Homo sapiens: one gene and its partners. The protein of the gene in region 2 purifies or fractionates together with the protein of the main gene of each other region. This does not show direct contact. Each region holds a gene or a part of one and is shown on either strand. Other genes may lie near its edges.

Region 1 (8,113 bases), on a different chromosome or scaffold from region 2:
TCCGTGTGTTCTGCATCTATGGAGTCAACCAAATATTTTGGAGTCAACAGAAATATGACTATGTTCTGTTGACTATGGAGTCAACAGAAAATATTTTGAAGCGGGGGAGATGGCTGCATCAGTACTGAACATACACGGACTTTTTTTCTTGTCATTATTCCCTAAACAATACAGTGTAACGAATATTTACATAGCATTTACATTGTATTAGGCAGTATAACTAATCTAGAGATGACTTAAGTGTACTGGAGGATGTACATAGGTTATATATAAATACTATGCCATTTTACATAAGGGATGTGAGCATCGTGGGTTTGGTATCTGAGGGGGGATCCTAGAACCTATCCCCCACGCATACTGAGGGACAATATATACATACCTATTAATACTTTACAAGTTAGTGGTTTTTTATATAATTATTCACTTGTCCTCAAAATATTTCAGTCAACCCCCTAAGAGTCATCTATCAGTTTTAAAATTTGTCATAGAAAAGATGAACAATCCCCTCAAACAAGACCATGCTATCTTCCCTTAAAGTAATAAAAAATGGCAGACATAAGTATTTAAGGTGGTCCAGTTGGGACCACGGCTCTAAAGATGATTTTATTATATAGCTAAATAGTTTATTCTCTATAATTCCAGAATTATTTCCACAGCCCATTTCAGAACTACTAGTAGCAGAGGCATACTTCCCATTTTTATTTACAAGGCACGTTTGGAGCCCTGTGTTGTGATGCTCACTGATCAATGTTACCAGAATTGCTCATAGTCTGGAAGAAACATCAAAGCCCCAAGGAAAGTGAGGATAGCACCACACTCATTCAATCCTAAATTATGCCCAAGCATTAAGAAAATGAAAAGAAACACTGTGATTGGATATGGCCATCCCCGAATATGTCACTGTTCCTACAATCTGGGGTACGGCCTGCCTTTCAAAGGCAAAGGACAGTAACATCTGTTTCAGTGTCTATGATGTACTGGGCCATGGACATCAACCTGTATTGTCTCATTTAATCTTCACGGCATCCTTCCTGTGAACGAGGTGCTATTATACCCCTTTTATGGATGAGACAACTAAAGCCTAGTCCAACTTTTAACGTGCTATTAAAAGTTAGGACAAGTTTTAAAATCAGGTCTTCTATTTCTGAAGACTGTGTACTTCCTCCTATCAAGAGCCTGAGTTTAGAAACTGGTTCTTATTCTCCTCTTGGAACCCTAGCTTCTGGAACTCAGAAGGGGCTCAGTAGTATTTGGGGAACCATCACCTGGTGTGGTCTGAAAGCTCACCCAGAAGGTCACCCTTGCTTACGTAGGGCCAACTTTCCCACCTTCTCAACCCCTCAGACTGAGAAAAAAGTGGGGTAGAATGCTGCTATTAAGCATCTAGGAAAAGTATTCCCCAAGTGGTAATTATGAACGTTATGTTTAAATTGTAGAACTTGACGTATCTGATGTATCTATCCTCTGTGATTCCTCATTTACAGTAAGGGGGTACTCGCTTCACTGCCAGTGCCTCCCCCAACCCCCCACCCTAGAAGCTCTGCTTTTCAGGTAAAGTGTTTGCTAAACTGAATAGATAGACCAAAAACCATGAAAACACTATAATGCCAGCTTTGAAAAAAAACTCTTAGCAATAGACCTGTGGACTATTTTTAGACCTACATACAAAAGGGAACATGATTTCTGCCAAAGTAAAGGCTCAACATGACCAGGGCAAGAATAAAACCAAAGGATAAAAAATGATCTAAATTTTCATCTTAAAAGAGGTAGAGTCTGACTTTAAGATTCAGAAATTAATTTTTTTTAAAAAGGGGTAGAGTCAGGATGAATTACTAGGAAGAGAACATTTGGATGCAAGATTATGAACATTGGGATTTGGCAATAAGACAACACTTGTTTGTCATCCCTTTAGGAATCTATTCCCAGCCCTCCAGGGCTGGTGGTGTCACAGCCTGTATTAAAGAGGCTTTCAAGAAACTCCCTCCAGCCTTTACAGCTCTTCCAAGCAAATGGAATTGTCCCCAAGTACCAATGCTCAAAAGGGCCAAGAAACTTGCCCACGGCTAACTGACTAGTAAGTGGCACAGCTGGGAGTTCCACCTGAGCCTGGCCTTAAAGCGCTGGCTTCACACTGTGTCACTTGTTAAATGAGAATCCTGCTACTCTGGTAAAATGTTTTTATTTCCTTATGACATCAAGTATAAAAAGTTCCAGAAGAAAAAAAAAAAAAAAGTAAAGCTCTGAAAGCTCAGAGGGTATTAGATACATTACAATTAGTTTAAAAAAGTAAAAGAAAGCTATTGACTTGGGGATTTATCACTAATCTTTTCAGATCTGTATCAAATGGTAATTGTAACAGAAACAATCTCTTAACATCATTTATTTTATTTTATTTTATTTTTTAAGAGGGAGTCTCGCTCTGTCACCAAGCTGGAGTGCAGTGGCATGATCTCGGCTCACTACAACCTCCACCTCTGGGGTTTAAGCAATTCTCCTGCCTCAGCCTCCCGAGTAGCTGGAATTACAGGCACGTGCCACACACCCAACTAATTTTTGTATTTTTAGTAGAGACAAGGTTTCACCATGTTGGCCAGGATGGTCTCGATCTCCTGACCTCATAATCCATCTGCCTCGGACTCCCAAAGTGCTGGGATTACAGGTGTGAGCCACCGCTCCTGGCTCTTAACATCATTTTTAGATGTCACTCTAGATGAGCTGATCTGGCGCACTTGTTATTTCTGCTTAAAGGTACAGCCCAGGCTGGGCACAGTGGCTCACTTCTGTAATCTTGTAATCCCAGCACTTTGGGAGGCTGAGACAGGTGAATCACCTTGGTCAGGAGTTTGAGACCAGCCCGGCCAACATGGTTAAACCCCATCTCTACTAAAATATAAAAATTAGGCCAGGCACAGTGACTCATGCCTGTAACCCCAGCACTTTGGGAGGCTGAGGCGGGTGGATCACCTGAGTTCAGGAGTTCGAAACCAGCCTGGCTAACATGGCAAAAACCCCGTCTCTACTAAAAATACAAAAATTCGCCAGGACTGGTGGTGCGTACCTGTAACCCCAGCTACTTGGGAGGCTGAGGCAGGAGAATCACTTGAACTCAGGAGGCCAAGATCACGCCACTGCACTCCAGCCTGGATGACAGAGTGACACTCCGTCTCAAAAAAAAAGTACAGCTTGGAATGTTTTAAAACGACAAACCTAATATTCAAAACATTTTACAACTGCAGAACAATTCCTCTGGTGAAAGATCTTTGAATGCCAATGGACCAAGCCAAATTTTAGCAAAATAATGCCACAAGTATAGTGTGTGAAATCCATGCAACGAACAAGACTTCCTTCAAACAAAATCAAGGCAAGTGCGCGGTCTGACCTGTTAAGGTGGCGGCATTGAGGATGACCTTCGGGTTAAACGTGTGTGCGTAACAGAGCGCATCAGCCAGTATGAGCCTCCCCTCAGCATCAGTGTTATCAACCTGCAGAGGGTCAAAAACAGAAAGGGTGACAGCGCAAGTAAAGAATATGAAAACTAGACACTTGCAACAGTGTTCGACGGAAAAGTTGGAAAAAGCTACTGTGACGTGTGTCATTATCAAACCATTCATACTTCAATGAGAATAGGAACATATCTAATCTGGAGAGCAAATATGATTTAATAATCCCCCAGCACCTTGGGAGGTAGAGGTGGGCAGACAGCTTGAGCCCAGGAGCTCGACACCAGCCTAGGCAAGATGGTGAAACCCCATTTCTAATTAAAAATAAAAAAATAATAATATAATAATCACTGTACCAGAGCTGATGACCTAATGTTGATGACTTTGGAAGCCAAAATAAATAGAAAAATGTCTAGTCCATTTTACCCGTAACTTTGTAACAAGAAGGGGAAAAATGTAAAGATTTCCAAAAATGAGGTTAAAGAGCTTTAAGAAAGCTACAGCTACATGGCAGTCTCAATCCTAGAAATGAAAACTCTTGCAACTTCAGTAACACTTCCTAACTATATTCCTTTCTTTTAAATAGAGGTCCAGTCGTTTTCTGAGTGGCTTGTACACACCTGCATGCACGTGCCACCCAGAGGACCTGCTGCCACATCCCCTTCAGTGCAGGGCCCATGATGTAGGACAGTATGTTCTACCTCAACACCTACAATGGAAAAAAGTCACTCATAGCACAGGTATATCCAGAAGATAGCCCACAATTTTACTGCTTTGCCGCCCTCTGCAGGGCTGGCAGCAAATTCATGGAAACGTGTGTATACACATGTATAGCATACAGGAAATGGGAGGAACAATAAGTCTGGAAAAACATTCTTCAAAATCCCCCAAAAAAGATACTTCTGCCTTTGCAAGAAAAGCTACTCAGGGGCCGGGAATGGTGGCTCGCGCCTGTAATCCTAGCACTTTGGGAGAACAAGGTGGGCAGATCACTTGAGTCTAGGAGTTTGGGACCAGCCTGGGAAACATGGCAAAACCCTGTGTCTACAAAAAGCTAGCCAGGCATGGTGGCACGCACCTGTGGTCCCAGCTACTCAGGTCGCTAAGGTGTGAGGACCACCTGAGCCTGGGGAGGTCAAGGCTGCAGTGAGACATGATCACGCCACTGCACTACAGCCTGGGTGATGCAGCGAGACCCCATTTCAGGAAAGGGAAGGAAAAGAAAGGCTACCCAGCACTAAAGACAGCACCCTCCCCTAATATGGTTCTGGGGCTCTGCACGCATCCTAGCTGTGGTTATGTGGCCACCACGGGATTCCTGAGGAACGCTGGATGGGGAGTGCTGTGTCTCACATTTACAAACCTGGATGGTCTTCCCGTTTTTGGCTCTAACAACATCCCCCGGCTTGTTGGCCTTGCCGCTGGGCATATTTTCACAAAGAGGGGCCAGACCTATTGGAAATAATATATGAAGGCACACAGTATATACTGGGTCCAAACATGCCACCTATGGGACAAGAGGCCACCTGTGAGCCATGAGAAGCAAGACACAAAGGCCACCTTAACGAACTGATCAAATTTAACATCACCAATGACACAACTGACATGATGTGTCAGCAACAAGAAGTACACATCACCCATGTAGCATTCTTCCCAAAGAAGTCTAACTTGATTCTAATCAAGAAGAAGCAATTCAAATAAATACAAATTGCAGAATATCATGAAACAAGCCTAGACCCTTCAAAACTGCTAATGCCGTGGAAGAAAACAGGAATAGGGTCTAGAATCAAGAAATCTAAAGGGGCACCAACAGCAATGTGTGGTCCTTGATTAGTTTCTGGATTTAAAAGCTAAATATAGGCCAGGCGCGGTGGCTCATGCCTGTAATCCCAGCATTTTGAGAGGCCAAGGCGGGCAGATCACCTGAGGTCAGGAGTTCAAGACCAGCCTGATCAACATGGAGAAACCCCGTCTCTACTAAAAATACAAAATTAACCAGGCATGGTGGCGCATGCCTGTAATCCCAGCTACTCAAGAGGCTGAGGCAGAAGAATCACTTGAACCCGGGAGGTGGAGGTTGTGGTGAGCCAAGATCGCGCCATTGCACTCCAGCCTGGGCAACAAGAGCGAAACTCCATCTCAAAAAAAACCAAAAAACCAAAAAAACCTAAATATAAATAAATAAAATGGACATTTTTTACACAACTGGAAACTTGAATTAGGTTACTGAATTAATCCTCGGAAAAGATAATGGTTTTGTCATTACATAGAATGTCCTTTTTCTTAGAGGACGTGTCGTGATGTCTGCAACTGACTTTTAAATAGTTCAGGAAAAAAAAGGACTATGATAGTGAAGGAGGGGGGCATGTCTGAGACCTGGATTCCAATTCTACCTTCCTTGTGCAATGGACAAGAGTCAGGGCATTATTATTTAACCTAAGACTCTCTCCTCCTTCCCCGTCTCCTCTGAAATGAGTATGAGCAATGCTATTATACAAACTCCCAGTACTGTGCCTGGGAGTTTGTATCTTCCATTACTAAGAACTGCCACATAATGAGCACTTTTTCTGTTCTAGGCACTTTCTGTGTGTTGTGCCATTTCACCGGCCACAATCCTACGAAGCAATCAGTCAATGAGCCAGCAACGTCCTGCCACCCCAAGTACCCAGCAAGTTTCATAATGTCAACTACAAACTTGACATTATGTGCCCCTGACTGCTAGCCACTTTTTGCAGAAGTGAAACAAATCAATTCCAGTTACAGCCCACTGGTTGCAAGATACATTTAGCTCAATCAGCTCAGACAGTAAAACACTTATCTGGGCTAAATAGCTACTGCTTGATGACTATTTAAAAATCATTTCTTATCTTTTCAGATTAGGGGAAATCATATCTGTTGTCTCTCTTCTCCCACCTGGCTAGAATCCAGAAGCGTTATGAGATGTAATCCGTTACCCCACTTACCTATAATATTAATGGGCAAATTAAGCTTTGCAGCAGACACGATGGCTGAGCATATAGTTGCAGCTCCTCCCATGTCAGCCCTCATGAGGTCCATATTTGCAGAAGCCTTGATGGAGATACCACCACTATGGGGAAATGGACAACGTGCAATATTAAGAGCAAAGAAGATGGCCAAAATCACTTTATTTAAAAAGTACAGATGGGCACGGTGGCTCACGCCTGTAATCCCAGCACTTTGGGAGGCCGAGGTGGGCGGATCACGAGGTCAGGAGATCGAGACCATCCTGGCTAACACGGTGCAACCCATCTCTACTATAAATACAAAAAAATTAGCCGGGTGTGGTGGTGGGCGCCTGTAGTCCCAGCTGCCACCATGCCTGGCTAATTTTTTTGTGATTTTAGTAGAGATGGGGTTTCACCTTGTTAGCCAGGATGGTCTCGATCTCCTGACCTCGTGATCCGCCAGCCTCGGCCTCCCAAAGTGCTGGGATTACAGGCATTAGCCATCGCGCCCAGCCTTTAGCTCATTTTATTTCTACTTGAATGAAATTTAAACAGTGCCACTGGAAACATTACTATATCATAAAATCAAGACTGTGCAAATTCCATCTCTGTATTGTCTGATTAACTCCTGACACCCACATAGTCTATTCAGCAAATTTTATGAATTGATCAACTTATGGAACGTGAAGGTCATGAGCTGTTAAGAAAAGCTGATGAGCTCACAGAGATGACTGGAGGCATTTCTCTGAAACCGACAGGACAGAGGGCTAACATTTCCTTCCAACACTGCACAAGGTGTGCTATATCCTGCTGATGGCAAAATACAACCTAAATGAGGCACAGGCCCAATGGCTGAGAGACAGTACTTCAACATGAGAACTGAATAAGGCTGCAATTAGCAAGAAACCAAACTACCTGACCCCCAGAGGCTTCTAACTAGCTAGTGGTTTTTCTGCTTCCAGTCCGTAGGAGTCCAGAAGCAACATGCTTCACAGGCCAAGCACAGAGCCAGGGGCTTCGACTCTAAGTTCTAATTGAGATCTGCTGCTCATGTGCCCTGGTGGCTCACTGGAGAGAGGTCTGCCTGCTGCTCTGAAGTCTGCTTTCCTTCAAAATTAAATCCTAATTCTCACTTACCTCAGAAGCACTTGTTACTTAGATGGTTGGCATGTTCACCAAGAATTAAAGATGATCCCCTGGCTCAAAGAAGAAAAATAACATGGGTAAACCCCATGGACAAAGGGAACACGCTGTTGTATTTGAAGTTTTTCTTCTGTCCACCTGCCACATTTATCTGCAGGCCTCTTCTGGAAGTTCTGCTCTCTAATTCCTATGACTATGGTTCTAAGGTAGCCACCAGTTAAAGATCAGCAATCAGCTTTGGCTCACTTTTTCAATCTCTCTCAAATCCACCCACTTATTTTCTACTCAGCCGCCCTCATTGATGCTACTACCCTCTGTCATTTGGATGTTTGTCAGGTCTCCTTAACGGGTCTTTCTGTATCAGTCTCACCACTGTCATTTCATTAACCATAAAAACAGCACATTTTTACACACACACAAAATCTATCTCAATCAAAATCTCAGTAGGTTTTGTTGTGTGAAAAAACAAGCAGATTCACCGAGTGTGGTGGCTCACGCCTGTAATCCCAGCACTTAGGGAGGCTGAGGCAGGCAAATCACTTGAGCCCAGGAGTTCGAGACCAG
Region 2 (8,113 bases):
GTGATCTGCCCGCCTCGGCCTCCCAAAGTGCTGGGATTACAGGCGTGAGCCACCGCGCCCGGCCAGCTAATTTTATCTTTTAAACTTTTCTTATAGAGACGGGGGTCTTGCTATGTTGCCCCGGCTGGCTTTGAACTCCTGGGCTCAAGCGATCTTCCTACCTCAGTCTCCCACAGTGCTGAGATTACCGGCATGAGCCACTGCAACCAGCTGACTTTCTGTTTTGTTTTGTTTTGAGACCGAGTCTTGCTCTGTTGCCCAGGCTGAGTGCAGTGGCTTGATCTTGGCTCACTGCAACCTCCGCCTCCCAGGTTCAAGCGATTCTCCTGCCTCAGCCTCGCGAGTAGCCAGGACTACACGCACCCGCCACCATGCCCAGCTAATTTTTGTAGTTTTTTAGTAGAGACAGGGTTTCACCACGTTGGCCAGGCTGGTCTCAAACTCCTGACCTCAAATGATCCACTTGCCTCAGCCTCCCAAAGTGCTGGGATTACAGGTATGAGCCACAGTGCCCGGAAGATTTTATGTTTTTTTGTTTGTTTGTTTGTTTTTGAGAAGGAGTCTCACACTGTCACCCAGGCTGGAGTGCAATGGCACAATCTTAGCTCATTGCAACCTCCCTCTCCCAGGTTCACACTATTCTCCTGCCTCAGCCTCCTGAGTAGCTAAGATTACAGGTGCACACCAACACACCCGGCTAATTTTTTGTATTTTTAGTAGAGATGGGGTTTCACTATGTTGGCCAGACTGGTCTCGAACTTCTGACCTCGTGATCCACCACCTCGGCCTCCCAAAGTGCTGGGATTACAGGCGTGAGCCACCGCGCTCAGCCTGATAGCCACTTTCTAGCACCGTTCGGTGTCAGGTTCAGTCATGTTTTTTGCTAAACCTGAAGCTTAAAAAAAAAAAGTTATCAGAGGAATTTTAAAGGCAGCAATTCATTGGTAAGATTGCTCAAAAGGGTAGAGTAGAAAAAATTCAACTTAGGACAACTTTATCTAATGATGTAGAGTACAGAGCACTTAATTTGGAGTTAGGAAAGGAAGTCTGGGTTCTAGTCCTAGCTCCATTACTAATTAAGACAACCAAAGGAAAACAATGAACTACTATTTCTCTTCCCATTTCCATAATTAAGATAACACTTAAACTACTTAACTCAGAGTCTGATTCTCAGGTTCCAATAAGGACGTATATGCAAAAGTAGTCAAGTCTTGTTACTTAAAATGTGACCTCCTCGCCAGAAGTATTTACATTTCTTGGGCCTCAGACTTACTGAATCCAAACAGTTTAGATATGGAGTTACCAAGGACCAAGTCCTAAATGAACGTTCTGCCACCTTCCCACTGTGTTATCTTGGCTATGTAACCTAATTTCTAAGTCTCAGTTTTTACATTTCTAAAATGGTAATAATAAAAGCCAATTTCAGAGTAGTTAAGTAAACTAAATAAAATAATTTTCATAAAAGCATCTAGAACAGTGCTTTGTGCATAGCTGAATTCAGTAAATATTTGTTTCTTACAAATGTGTTGGCCTATCACCTACCATCAAGTGTCAGAACTTCCTGGGAGTTGGATCCCAGGAAAGAGGCAGTCAAGCCTGAGGCAGAGGTGAATGGATAATTCCTTCCAGCTGTGGAATACAAAATAAAGTCCCAATTTTCTTTCTTTCTTTCTTTCTTTTTTTTTTTTAACAGGCATCAAGGAAAAGATACCAGTTTTCTTTTTAAGGGCTTCTTGACCAAGAAGGGAGGCATCTCAGGGAGAGGAAACAAATTTAACTAACCCTGATGGCCACCAGCAGAGCAAATGACTCTAGACAGGAGGTGCTTGAGGACTGTAACATCAAAGGCTACATTTCATTTCCTCTACCCCGTGGCTGCCAAAGAAAGCTGCTGAATGGCTCTGAACAGTACATTCAGGTTATGTTCATTGATGAGACAGGTAGATTACAAACCTCTGAATCATCCCTGAACTTCTACCTCCCAGATTCTCCCCTAATCCTGGAGGTGTGACAGTTGGGCTTTTGGCTTCTGGATGCATGCCACCTGTAGAGTCACCTTACTGGAACAGCAGCTCTCAGGAGAATCAGGCAGTCATCTCACTCAATAGGTCAGCTCCTTCATGGGGAGAGATGGAGAGGGCTACTTCCAAAGACAAGGGCCTGGCTCACAATGTCTGACAGCCAGTATTCTCTATAGGGTGGAGGTGGCGTTATCACAATCACGAAGAGGTTTTTCCCCCACAATCACTAAGAGCTCATTTGTTGCCACCCCTTACAAGAACTCCTCTAGTGAGTCAGCTATTATTGATAGAGGTGGGCTGTAGCCCTCAAATGTGGTAAGATGAAAAAATATAAAAATTAAAAGAGGCCAGGTATGGTGACTCACACCTTCCTTTGTTCTCCTCTGCCTTTGCCTCTTTAAAAAAGTTCTAAGTTGCAGCTGGGCACTGTGGCTCAAGCCTGTAATCCCAGCACTTTGGGAGGCCAAGGCAGGCAGATCACGGGGTCAGGAGATCAAGACCATCCTGGCTAACATGGTGAAACCCCGTCTCTATTAAAAAATACAAAAAATTAGCCAGGTGTGGTGGCAGGTGCCTGTAGTCCCAGCTACTCGGGAGGCTGAGGCAGGAGAAGCTCCGGGAGGCAAAGCCTGCAGCGAGCCGAGATTGTGCCACTGCACTCCAGCCTGGCTGACAGAGCAAGACTTGGTCTAAAAAAAAAAAAAAAAAAGTTCTAAGTTGCTAGCCAATCAGGACAAATACAAAATGTGAGGTCCCATTCCAGCCAATGGAAACTGGAACTGGACACAGCAGTAGGGTGGATGCATCAGGGTATAAATGACCCTGTCTCCTTTGCTCGGTGTACTCTCGTGGCAAAACTGCTGGCGTGTACCCTTTCTGCAGAAAGTATAAAAATGGCCTTGATGGCCTGGCGCGGTGGCTCACGCCTGTAATCCCAGCACTTTGGGAGGCCAAGGCAGGCGGATCATGATGTCAGGAGATCGAGACCATCCTGGCTAACAGGGTGAAACCCCATCTCTACTAAAAAAATACAAAAAAAAAAAAAAAAAAAAAAAATTAGCCGGGCGTCATGGCGGGCGCCTGTAGTCCCAGCTACTCAGGAGGCTGAGGCAGGAGAATGGCGTGAACCTGGGAGGCAGAGCTTGCAGTGAGCCGAGTTCGCACCACTGCACTCCAGCCTGGGCGACAGAGTGAGACTCTGTCTCAAAAAAAAAGGCCTTGCTGAGTAAATTAAATTAAATTAATTAAATTTATGTTCAAGTGCTATTTCTTTACAGCACCAGGGAACAAGCATTTCAAACAGGAGGCTGAGGCAGAAGAATCGCTTGAACCCAGGTGGCTGAAGCTGCAGTGAGCTGAGATTGTGCTACTGCACTCCAGCCTGGGCAACAGAGGAGACTCTGTCTCAAAAAACAAAACAAAACAAAAAAAGCCCACTTACTCAATATAGGTTATTTTCCTCTTACTCCTTAGCCTATTACCATCACTGTTCCACATCTAGCACCCTCACCCTACAGTCAAGAAGCCAAATTTTCTTTGATTCTCCATCCTAGGTACATCCAGACTCTCTCTGTCCTTCTGCATATCCAGGATATGTCCTACCACATATCCACATAACCAACATTAAAACCTTGGGGGAGGCTGGGCGCAGTGGCTCATGCCTATAATCCCAGCATTTCTGAATTAAAAAGCAAGACTCTGTCTCTACAAAAAATAATTTAAAAAATTAGAAAACAGGCTGGACACGGTGGCTCACGCCTGTAATCCCAACACCTTGGGAGGCCAAGGTGGGTGGATCACCTGATGTCAGGAGTTCAAGACCAGCCTGGCCAACATGGTGACACCCCATCTCTACTAAAAATACAAAAATTAGCCAGGCGTGGTGGCACATGCCTATAGTCCCAGCTACTCGGGAGGCTGAGGCAGAATCGCCTGGACCTGGGAGACGGAGGTTGCAGTGAGCTGAGATTGCGCCATTGCACTCCAGCCTGGGTGACAGAGCAAGACTCCGTCTCAAAATAATAATACTAAAAAAAATTAGAAAACAAAACAGAAAAACCTTGCGGAAGAAGCTCCTGATTTTAACAGGGACTTCGTCCTTCATCAACAAAAGATCAGAGCTTGCCAAGCCAGCAGGACTGGCTTAGCTGATGGAGCAAACACAATACACTAATAACCAGTAGGAAAAAATCCTGTACTACAGACACTTCCAATGCAGAAGGAACAACTTGCATTCAGAGAACACGAACACAAATAGGACAAAGGCTCCTCTCTCCCCAGAACCAGGTCAGAGAACTAAAGCCATTTAATGTGTGTGTTTCACAACGGTGATACTGGAAGTCGGTTTGGCACTACATGGTCAGGCCACTTAAAAGCCTGAGCAATCTACAGATTTCATACTTTGACCTCCTTCATACTTACAGACATTTCCTTAATAATTCTACCTAACTGTCATTTTCCAACAGTCTCTTCACGTGAATAGTCACCGATCACTGCTGGGTGCAGTGGCTCATGCCTGTAATCCCAGCACTTTGGGAGGCCAAGGTAGGCCGATCACCTGAGGTGAGGGGTTCAAGACCAGTCTGGCCAAGATGGTGAAACCCTGTCTCTACTAAAAATGCAAAAATTAGTCGGGCACGGTGGCGCACACCTGTAATCTCAGCTAACCGGGAAGCTGAGAAAGGACAATTGCTTGAACCCAGGAGGCAGAGGTTGCAGTGAGCCGAGATCATGCCACTGTACTCCAGCCTGGGCGACAGAGCAAGACTCTGTCTCAAAAAAAAAAAAAAAAAAAAAAAAGATGCACTGATCACTCAGTAAGGAGGACTGCAAAAGATACTCCTCCAGCTTCCATCTTCAGAAAGGAATCACAAGTCTATTTTTGTTTTTTGAGACAGAGTCTCTGTCACCCAGGCTGGAGTGCAGTGGTGCGATCTCGGCTCACTGAAACCTCCACCCCCTGGGTTCAAGCGATTCTCCTGCCTCAGCCTCCCGAGTAGCTGGGATTATAGGTGCCTGCCACCATGCCCAGCCAGGAATCACAAGTATTAAACTTTCCTTTCAGTAGGAACACTTACTGTTCTTTTGTTGAGACGAGTCTCACTCTATTGCCCAGGCTGGAGTGCAGTGGCATGATCTCAGCTCACAGCAACCTCTGCCACCCGGATTCAAGTGATTCTTGTGCCTCAGCTTCCCTAGTAGCTGGGATTACAGGCAGCTGCCACGATTGGCTGATTTTTGTATTTTTAGTAGAGACAGGGTTTCACCATGTTGGCCAGGCTGGTCTCGAACTCCTGACCTCAAGTGATCTGCCCACCTCAGTCTCCCAAAGGGCTGGGATTACAGGCGTGAGCCACTGTGCCTGGCCAACACTTATTGTACTTTAATTTAATGAACTTTTTTTTTTTTTTTAAGAGACAAGGTCTTGCTATGTTGCCAGGCTGATCTCAAACTACTGGGCTCAAGTGATCCTCCTACCTCAGCCTCCCAAAGTGCTGGAATTATAGACATAAGCCATCATGCCTAGCTAATAAATATTTCTTGGCCGGGCACGGTGGCTCATGCCTGTAATCCCAGCATTTTGGGAGGCTGAGGCGGGTGGATCACGAGGTCAGGAGTTCAAGACCATCCTGGCCAACATGGTGAAACCCCATCTCTACTAAAAATACAAAAATTAGCCCGGCGTGGTGGCATGTGCCTGTAGTCCCAGCTACTAGGGAGGCTGAGGCAGGAGAATAGCTTGAACCCGGGAGGCAGAGGTTGCAGTGAGCCGAGATCACACCACTGCACTCCAGCCTGGGTGACAGAGCGAGACTCCATCTCAAGGAAAAAAAAAAAATTCTTGAACACCTACTTATTATGTGTACACTAAGTATATACTAGTGAATAAAGAATATAGGATCTGTCATCATAATACTTTCTCAGGAATTAGAAACTATTCCCTTACTTCTGCTAGAAGTTCGTAGAAGTTTTATGGCTGGGCGCGGCAGCTCACGCCTGTAATCCCAGCACTGTGGGAGGTGGAGGCGGGCGGATCACGAGGTCAGGAGATCGAGACCATCCTGGCTAACACGGTGAAACCCTGTCTCTACTAAAAATACAAAAAATTAGCGGGGCGAGGTGGTGGGCGCCTACAGTCCCAGCTACTCAGGAGGCTGAGGCAGGAGAATGGCGTGAACCCCAGAGGCGGATCTTGCAGTGAGCCGGGATCGAGCCACCGCACTCTAGCCTAGGCGACAGAGCGAAACTGTCTCAAAAAAAAAAAAAAAAAAAAAAAAAAAAAAGAAGTTCTTACAAGTTTTAACTCCCTGACACTTTAGGGATTTACAAGAAACTTTTCCAGATCCCATCCTACTTTGCAGAATTGTAATCTGAAGGTAGGATCCAGGAAACTGCAACATAAGCAAGCATTACAGGTGACAATGCCCACTGTGAGTTTACAGACCTTTTAAAATAGCATCATGTTAAAAGAAATACAGAGGGCTGGGTGCAGTGGCTCACGCCTGTAATCTCAGCACTTTGGGAAGCTGAGACTGGTGGATTGCTTGAGCCCAGGAGTTCGAAACCAGCCTGGACAACATGGCAAAACACTGTCTCCAAAAAAACTACAAAAAAATTAGCCAGGCGTGGCTGTGCGTGCCTGTGGTCCCAGCTACTCGGGGGGATTGCTTGGGCCCATGAGGTTGAGGCTGTAGTAATAGCAAGCCATGTTCGCACCACTGCACTCCAGCCCCACCCCCCAAAAAAAACCCAAAACAGAGAACTAAGGAACTTGTGCAGTTGAAGCACAGTTGAAGCCAGAACTGAAAGATAATCAGATGCTAAGAAAGATCTATTGCTACAGTTGCCTCATTACGGTTTTAAATTTCACATCCTACTCTGTTGCATAAAGTATTGACACAGGGCAGAAAGAATCATTGTGTGGCTTTATTGAAATCCACCAAGTCTGGTTTCCCTTCTGCTGCCCCTTGGATTTTAAGTCAGGAATGCCAACTCTATCGCTGCTACCTACCATACTATTCTTGCTGCCTCCCCATGCATTCATTCACCTGCTACCAACCTAAAGGCCACTGGGAAGACCAAATGCAGTCATCTCACCACTAACACCCCATAAGGCTTCCCCTGCCATTCTAGTATCAAGGAATCACCGTTACTTTGGGTAGGCTGATAGTCAAAGTGAGGGCACAGAGATATGAGCCCTTACCTTTAAAAAATTTGGGCTTTAAAACCTAACTAAATATTTTGCAGGACAAAACCAACTCGGTTTTGTTGAACCCAATTTCTGAGTAGGACTTATACAGGTGATGTTGTACAGTGGTATAAGTCCAATGTAAAGAAACCATTGGTTCCTTTGCATTTAAGTGTCTTGAAAAAGTCTAGAAGTAATCTAGAAACATCTTTGAATTGATTTACTCAGTTTCAAACATACTAGCTTGGAGAAGCAATTTTCAGTGGCTCAAGAGACAGTTCCCTTTAGCTAGGGTTGGTTAAGCATGTTGACTTCAAAAGTCCAGAAGTGAACTGCAGCCCTACTTCAATTCCTAGCCCAAATCCAAACCCAGATCATCTGTGAAAAGACATTTTTGATGTCACAAAACTGAGTCACCCACAGATAATACTAAGGCCATTGCTTAGCATTAATGAATTTGGATAAACAAGAAGTCAAATAATCTCAAAGCTCTCTGAATTAGCTTCTAACTCAGGTGTTTTAAATTATGTGACATTTAAATTATGTGACAGTGAGAGTAGAACAATAGAACAATGACTAATTCACATGTTGTCTCCTAGTAAGGTTAAAAAAATTCGCCAGTCTGGCCAATATGGTGAAACCCCGTCTCTACCAAAAATACAAAAAATTAGCTGGGCGTGGTGGTGCACACCTGCTAACCCCAGCTACTCAGGAGGCTGAGTCACGAGAATCGCTTGAGCCTGGGAGGCAGAGGTTACAGTGAGCGGAGATTACGCCACTGCACTCCAGCCTGAGTGACAGAGTAAGACTCTGTCTCAAAACAAAAAAAAATTTCTTCTCAGAAAAGTAAAACTACACCTGACGCTGAGACTCAAAGTGGTAAGAGTCAGTTCTCCCTGGTAGG
Region 3 (8,113 bases), on a different chromosome or scaffold from region 2:
GTGATTTCAAATTTTCTTCTTTTCTGCTTACCTGCTTTTCCAAAATTTTCTATAATGAATGAGTGCTACTGTAACACTAAATTATAGCCAGAGTTATCCTGGTGGTACGGACGGCCAGTACGTCCCTGGGACCCGAGACATCACTAGAAGGCGGATCCTGTCCTTGCTGCATGGCCGGGCCTGCCACACGCCTGGACACTGAGGGAGGTACCTGGATGGTGATGGTGCCTTTCTCGGCATTGGTCTGCAAGTGAATCTCCATTTCTGGCAGTGCTTGGCCGTCAGACACCAGTTTGTGACGCAGTTTTTCCAAGGCATCGCTGGCATTGGAGATCAGCTCCCGTATAAACACCTACAGGAATAGAAATGGGAGGCACAGACAATGAAGGACACTCATCCTGCAGGATCTATCTGGTCAGCTGCACTTCCAATAACTGTTAAAAGGTAGAGGAGAATAGTCAATTCTCAAAGCATAAAGAGTTTCTGCTTTAGTCAAAGGCAGTTCCTCTGGGCCGGTCACAAAGTGACTGAAGGTGCTGACTTTCCTTTCAGGATTTCTTTGAGAGTCTCACTCTGTCACTCAGGCTGGAGGCTGCAATCACGGCTTATTGCAGCTTTAACCTCCTGGACCCAAGCAATCCTCCCACCTCAGCCTCCTAAGTAGCTGGGCCCACAGGCATGCACCACACCCAGCTAATTGTTTTAAAATTTTTATAGACACAGGGTCTCGCTATGTTGCCCAGGCTGGTCTTGATCTCCCAGGCTCAAGTGATCGTTGTGCCTCCGCCTCCCAAAGTGTTGGGATTACAGACGTGAGCCACGGTGCCTGGCCCTTTTCAGGATTTTTAATCAAGCCTGAAGTTACGTGTCCATCTGTTAATTATAACTTTAAGAAGAGCCCTCTGGCTGGGGTTGGGGGCTCATGCTTGTAATCCAGGCACTTTGGGAGGCTGAAGCAGGTGGATCACTTGAGGTCAGGAGCTCAAGACCAGCATGGCCAACATGGCAAAACCCAGTCTCTACTAAAAATATTAAAATTAGCTGGGCGTGATGGAACACACCTGTAATCCCAGCTACTCAGGAGGCTGAGGCAGGAGAATCGCTTCAACCCACAAGGCGGAGGTTGCAGTGAGCCGAGATGGCACCACTGCACTCCAGCCCCGACAGAGAGAGACTCTGTCTCAAAAAAACAAACAAAAGAGGCCTGCGAGGAACAATTTCTTTCCCAACTCCTGCACAGGGATGACGGCATATCACTCAAACATCCATTTCTCCTTGATATGGTTTGGCTGTGTCCCCACGAAAATCTCACCTTGAATTGTACTCCCATAATTCCCACGTGTTGTGGGAAGGACCTGGTGGGAGATAAGTGAATCATGGGGGCCGTTTCCCCAGTACTGTTCTCGTGGTAGTGAGTAAGTCTCATGAGATCTGACAGTTTTTTGGGGTTTCTGCTTTTGTGTCTTGCTCATTCTCTCTTTGCCTGCTGTCATCCATGTAAGACGGGACTTGTTCCTCCTTGCCTTCCACCATGACTGTGAGACTTCCCCAGCCACATGGAGGTGTAAGTCCAATTAAAGCTCCTTCTTTGGTAAATTGCCCAGTCTCAGGTATGTCTTTATCAGCAACGTGAAAATGGACTAATACACTCCTACTCCACAAAAACAGGTTCCCTAGCTTCATCTCATCTAGTGGGGACCACCAAACACCAGGTCTACCACACCCGGAGAAAAACAGGCCTCAGGGCCCAGCTGTCCCTCAGGAGCTGAAAAGCACACTGACCTCAAACAGACCTTCCATTTAAAATCAGTGAGAGAGGCCGGGTGTGGTGGCTCACACCTGTGATCTCAGCACTTTGGGAGGCTGAAACAGGCAGATCACCTCAGCCCAGGAGTTCAAGACCAGCCTGGGCAACACGGCAAAACTCCGTCTCTACAAAAAAATACAAATATCAGCCAGAGGCTGAGGAGGAAGGATGGCTTGAGCTCAGGAGGCGGAGGTTGCAGCGAGCCGAGATCATACCACTGCACTCCAGCCTGGGCGTCAGACCCAGACCCTGTTCCAAAAAATTAAAAAACCAAAAAAAAAAAAAACAAAAACCCACACAATTAAAAATAGAAAAATTAAGTCCGCAAGAGCACATAGGTGAAGAGGAAGCGGTGGCTGATCTGGGCGGAAGCTGGAGGTCACTGGGAGTCAGGAATGCAGCACTCATCAGTACGAAACCCGGAAACAGCTCCTAGAAGGCCCTCTGAGCTTTGAAATCTGCTGCTTTACAAACTTTCTTCAGGACTCTCCTTTGCCTTCCAGCAATAATCAGCATGTCAACGATGGTGGCCTTCATCTTTCTTTTTCCTTGTCCTGTCACCCCAAATGAGTTTTGCGGGGTTTTTTTTAATAGAGATGGGGTCTCTTCACGTTGCCTAGGCTGGTCTCAGACTCCTGGACTCACACAATCCTCCTACCTTGGCCTCCTAAAGTGCCGGGATTACAGGTGTGGGTCACCGCACCTGGCCCCAAATGCGTTTTAATTTCCTCAGTAACTCCTCCCTGCTCCATACACACAGGACTGGGGAACCTTCTTCCTCCGGCAGCCAAAGCCGCCAAGACCTGCAGGTAGTCCCACCAGGCAAAGGGGCCTCAGAGCGTATCCAAAGCTCCACAGAGACGGAATTCAGCAGAGCTGCACGCTAGGATTTGGGGGACTTTTTTTTTGGAGAGAGGGTCTTACTCTGTTGTGCAGGTCAGTGTAGTAACACAATCATGGCTCACTGCAGCCCCAAAGTCTGCCAGGCTCAAGTCATCCTCCCACCCCAGCCTCCTGAGTAGCTGGGACCACAGGTCAGTGCCCCCATAGCTGGCTAATTTTTTAAATTTTTTGTAGAGACGGAGTCTTGCTGTGTTGACCAGGCTGGTCTCAAACTCCTGGGCTCAAGTGATCCTCCTGCCTCGACCTCCCAAAGCACTGAGTTCCCAGGCATGAGCCACCACACCAGGCCTGTATTTCGGGAACTTTTAAAATTATTGGCAAAATTCAATTAATTCCCAGAGTTGATCCAGCCCAAAGAACCATCTGGATACACTTATCCAGGAAACCAAAACAGATTCTGGTAAAACTCCTCTCACTGGTAGCTTAAGATGAGGACCTGTCCAAAGTTTAATGCTTTCTCACAGCTAATATATTATCTGGCAATTCTCCAGAATGGCATAAAAACCAGCTTTGTGAAAAGAAACTTTGCTAGCATCGGGCATGGTTAGCAGGGAACGCACCTCTTTTTCTGAGTACAGGGACCGGGCAACAATGTCCAAAAGCTTCTTTGTCTCGGCCTGGAACTCATGTTTGGAAGTGGAACCTAGTAATGAAACACAGACACAACCAACAAAGTTTAACTTCTATTTTTGTGCAAGAATACGCTACGTCACATTCCAAAGAAAGCTTAAGTTTATGAGTTTTAAACTTTTTTTTTTTTTTTTTTTTGAGACGGAGTCTCGCTCTGTCACCCAGGCTGGAGTACAGTGGCACGATCTCGGCTCACTGCAAGCTCTGCCTCCCGGGTTCACGCCATTCTCTTGCCTCAGCCTCCCGAGTAGCTGGGACTACAGGTGCCTGCCACCACGCCCGGCTAATTTTTTGTAGTTTTAGTAGAGACGGGGTTTTACCATGTTAGCCAGGATAGCCTCGATCTCCTGACCTCATGATTGGCCCGCCTCGGCCTCCCACACATTTAAGATCATGAACAAAAAGAAAGAAGCAGACAGAAACAAAGTCTGGCTGGGCACCATGGCTCATGCCTGTAATCCCAGCACTTTGGGAGGCCAAGGCAGGAGAATCACTTAAGCCCAGGAGCTCAAGACCAGCCTGGGCAACACAGAGGGATCCCGCCATCTCTACAAAAAATACACAAAGTAGCTGACGGTGGTGGCACACACTTGTGGTCCCAGTGACTCAGGGGGCTGAGGTGGGAGGATCACTTGAGCCAGGGAGGTCGAGGCTTCAGTGAGCCATGATTGCACTACAGCACTCGGCCTGGGTGACAGAGAAAGACCCTGTCTCAAAACAAAACAAAACAAAAAGTCTCTCAGAAAGGAGGTCTCAGGGCAGGACAAATCCTCCCACTGCTGAGGCCAGACATGCCTCGGGCTATGTCGAGGGAATGCTGAGCCTGGTTTCCCAATGTGCATGGTTACGAGAACTGGACTGCCTCTAAGAACCAGATTATATGTTCTTTCTTTTTTTTTTAGAGGCAGGATCTGGCTCTGTTGCCCAGGCTGCTATGCAGTGGCAGGATCGTGCTCACTGCAGCCTCAACTTCCTGGGCTCAACCGATTCTCCTGCCTCAGCCTCTCAAGTACCTGGAACCACTGGTGTGTGCTACCATGCCTGGCTAACTTTTTAATTTTTTTCTGTAGAGAAAGGGTCTATCTTGCCCAGGTTGGTCTCGACCACTTGGCCTCAAGCAATCCTCCTGCCTCGGCCTCCCAAAGTGCTGGGATTACAAGTGTGAGCCACTGTGCCTGGACTATATTCTTCAAAAAAGCGGTTTCCAAATTAATTAGTTAGAAATCAAAATAACAAGAAAACCTCACTTCTCTTTTTAACTTCAAAGATTCTACTCTTGTCGACCCACTTAAAAGCCAGAAATGGAGCCACTTCAGGACTGGCTCCAAAGACTGCTTTTTTATACTTCAGAGGGAATGAAAAGACAGCTCCAGAATTCGGTCCTGCGCAGACTGGGCCAATGCTGAGTTTCCCCTCCCGCTTCCATGATTATTAGCAGATGTGCCATGAATCACCACTCAGGGGAGGTGCCGGACGGCAAACTCACGGGTGGCCACCAGAGGGGGCAAGACACACCCGACACTGGCAGAAGTCCCTCGCTGGGACAGAAATGGAGGGCGCAGCACTCCCTACAGCCAAGACCTTCTGATTTCACACCTAAGGCGGTGGCTCTACCAATCACTGCCTCCACCCTGAAAATGCCCCTTTACGCACAGCAGTGAACCAAAAAGCCCTCCCAGACCAAAGCACGAGCCAAGGCTACCCTGCACGCTCTCTGTGCTGCTGATAATCGAGTGCAGGGGTTCCTCCTTGTCCTCGGCGGTCTGCGTGCTGAACAGTCGTCCTGCCTGCAAGCTCCAGGCTGGGTTTCGCCTGGGGCCCAACTGGGCTGTGGTCCTCCGAGGACACAGAATTGGTTTTCCTGAAAAGACAAATATGCAGAAAGAATGAGAATTAGGAAGACACGAGAAACAATATGGTAATTCGTCCCATCAAGGGTGTCTAGCAGAAGCTAGCGTGGACATCTCTAAGTCGGGCTGTTGCTGAAAGAGAAATCCACAGGACCAAATGCCACAGTGTCAGGGTGTGGTTTTGGCAAGGAGCCCTCACAGATGTCATCAGTGTAAGATACTGTGTCTTCTCAGAACCGCAGAAGCGAAACTGGAGGGGGTGGGCTGCTGCCTTCTTTTCAGAGGGGGTCTCGCTCTGTCACTGCGATCACAGCTCACTGCAGCCCCAACCTCCTGGACTCAGGCAATGCTCCTGCCTCCGCCTCACGAGTAGCTGGGACCACAGGCACAGACCACCATGCCCCCATAATTTTTTAAAAAATTTTTTGTAGAAATGGGGTTTTGCTATGTTGCCAAGACTGGTCTCGAACTCCTGGGCTGAAACCATCTTCCCGCCTTGGCCTTACAAAGAGCTGGGATGACAGGCGTGAGCCACCATGCCCAGCTGGCAGATGCCTGCTGACAGCACTTCCCACATTCGCCTCACGGGTGACACCTCGCATCAACCTACCAAACTGAAACCTGTCTCGACCCTCGCAGCCCCTGCAGAAGCCCCCGATGGGCCACACTTCTTTGCTCTTGACAGTCAAGCAAAAAAAAAATCCTCCCAAAAGGGATCCAAATATTTAAATGTTAATATTCTGAAACTGTCTCATCTTCTAAAAGTTGATTCTTTCCCATTGCTTTTTCATCCAAAACAGATTTTTTAAAAAAAATTTGTGTACTTTAAAAACTGAAAAACAGCTGACGATGGGTTCTACCTTCTAACTAAGAAGGAGACTTGTCTTCTGTAACTTCCTGCTCAGTCCAGTGGGCTGAGAAAGTTGCCGGCAGAGCCCAGCGAGGGAGGAAAGCAGCCAATGTGTCCCCAGCCGCACGCAGTTCACCGACGCAGGCCCAGAAACCAGACACTTTCACTCCAACACAGGACTGGACCGACCCAACACCAACACCCACTGACCCCAGGGACCACATACCAGGACCCTGCCTTGGTCAGTAGATTTGCAATACGTGATGGTGTCAAGGATATGTGGCCAGCCAGCCACGCCGTGTCAAAGTCTAAGCCTAAATGAACCGCATCTAACTGGGAGCCTCTCCTGTTCTTCACAAATTTGTAACAAGTAGAAAGGAAAGACAACAGAATATCCAGGAATCAAGGTTTTAAAAATCAGCATATCAGCCAGGGGTGCGGTGGCTCACGCCCGTAAACCCAGCACTTTGGGAGGCTGAGGTAGGCGGATCACATGAGGTCAGGAGTTCGAGACCAGCCTGGCCAACATGGAGAAACCCCATCTGTACTAAAAATACAAAAGTTAGCCGGGCATGGTGGCAGGCACCTGTAATCCCAGCTACTCGGGAGACTGAGGCAGGGGAATGGCTTGAACTTGGGAAGTGGAGGTTGCAGTGAGCCGAGATCGTGCCGCTGCACTACAGGCTGGGTGACAGAGCAACATTCTGTCTCAAAAAAAAAAAAAAATTAACATATCAACTTTCATACTCCTAAAAGGTACAAAAACTTGCCTTTTTTTTTTTTTTTTTTTTGAGATGAAGTCTCACTCTTGTTGCCCAGGCTGCAGTGCAATGGTGCAATCTCGGCTCATTGCAACCTCCACCTCCCGGGTTCAAGCGATTCTCCTGCCTCAGCCTCCCGAGTAGCTGGGTTTACAGGCGCCTGCCACCACACCCAGCTAATTTTTGTAGTTTTAGTAGAGACAGGGTTTCACCATGTTGGCCAGGCTGGTCTCGAACTCTTGACCTCAGGCGATCTGCCCACCTCAGCCTCCCAAAGTGCTAGGATTACAGGCATGAGCCACCGTGCCCAGCCAAAACTTGCCTATTCTTTAGGCTTATTCCTGGACTTACAAACAGCACAAACCTGGCCTTTTGTTTTTGTTTTTTTTTGAGATGGAGTCTCGCTCTGTCGCCCAGGCTGGAGTGCAGTGATCTCGGCTCACTGCAACCTCCATCTTCTGGGTTCAAGCGATTCTCCTGTCTCAGCCTCCAAAGTAGCTGGGACTACAGGCACCAGCCACCATGCCTAATTTTTGTATTTTTAGTAGAGACGAGGTTTCACCTTATTGGTCAGGCTGCTCTCGAACTATTGACCTCAGGTGATCCACCCACCTAGGCCTCCCAAAGTGCTGGGATTACAGGCGTGAGCCACCATGCCCGGCCAACCCTAGCCTGTCTTTATCTCTATGCAGATACCTTAAAAACATCTACCACAATTCAGAAAGTATTCAAATTCCAAACCATGTAAACATCCAGTTATTTGGGCCCATGTAATTGCATTGTTCACTTTATTCGTACAGTTAAAAAAAAAAAAAAAATCCCGGGACATTTCTTCTGGAATTAAATGGTATTTGGCATTAGAGGAGTTCGCGAACAGTCTACATCAAACCAGGGTGCTGAAGTCTCTGTGCCTCCTTCCAAAGCACAGCCAGCCCTGGGGGCACAGGAGGGAAGTGTCCAAGTGCCAACACCTGCCCACAGAGCATATCAGTGTTTCTCACCATTTGTGTAAAAGAAACACAAAAAGGATAAACCAGAAACTGATGTGACTGTGTATTTTGTTTCCTAGGACTACTGAAACACAGCACCACAAACTAGGCAGTTTCAAAAAGGTCCACAGTTCTGAGCCAGGCACACAACCTCACACCTGTAATCCCAGCACTTTGGGAGGCCAAGGCAGGAGAATCGCTTGAGCCCAGGGGTTTAAGACCAGCCTGGGCAAGAAAGTGAGACTCCATCTCTGCAAAAAACACAAAAACTAGCCAGGTGTAGTGGTGTGCACCTGTAGTCCCAGCTACTTGTGAGGCTGAGG

Evidence for each region. The genes of interacting proteins can lie anywhere in the genome.
Region 1: the proteins of CS (region 2) and LAP3 fractionate together in Homo sapiens (co-fractionation; 2 studies listed by BioGRID). This does not show direct contact.
Region 3: the proteins of CS (region 2) and TRAP1 purify together in Homo sapiens (affinity purification with mass spectrometry; 2 studies listed by BioGRID, with this or other methods). This does not show direct contact.

The regions. Positions count from the first base shown.
Region 1 is NC_000004.12:17,593,825-17,601,937, reverse strand, and holds part of LAP3 (cytosol aminopeptidase), read right to left. Parts: intron 6,529-8,113; coding exon 6,404-6,528; intron 4,893-6,403; coding exon 4,804-4,892; intron 3,483-4,803; coding exon 3,380-3,482; intron 1-3,379. UniProt on the Homo sapiens protein: Cytosolic metallopeptidase that catalyzes the removal of unsubstituted N-terminal hydrophobic amino acids from various peptides.
Region 2 is NC_000012.12:56,289,678-56,297,790, forward strand, and holds part of CS (citrate synthase, mitochondrial precursor), read right to left. Parts: intron 1-8,113. UniProt on the Homo sapiens protein: Key enzyme of the Krebs tricarboxylic acid cycle which catalyzes the synthesis of citrate from acetyl coenzyme A and oxaloacetate.
Region 3 is NC_000016.10:3,685,785-3,693,897, forward strand, and holds part of TRAP1 (heat shock protein 75 kDa, mitochondrial isoform 1 precursor), read right to left. Parts: intron 5,202-8,113; coding exon 5,043-5,201; intron 3,354-5,042; coding exon 3,271-3,353; intron 353-3,270; coding exon 212-352; intron 1-211.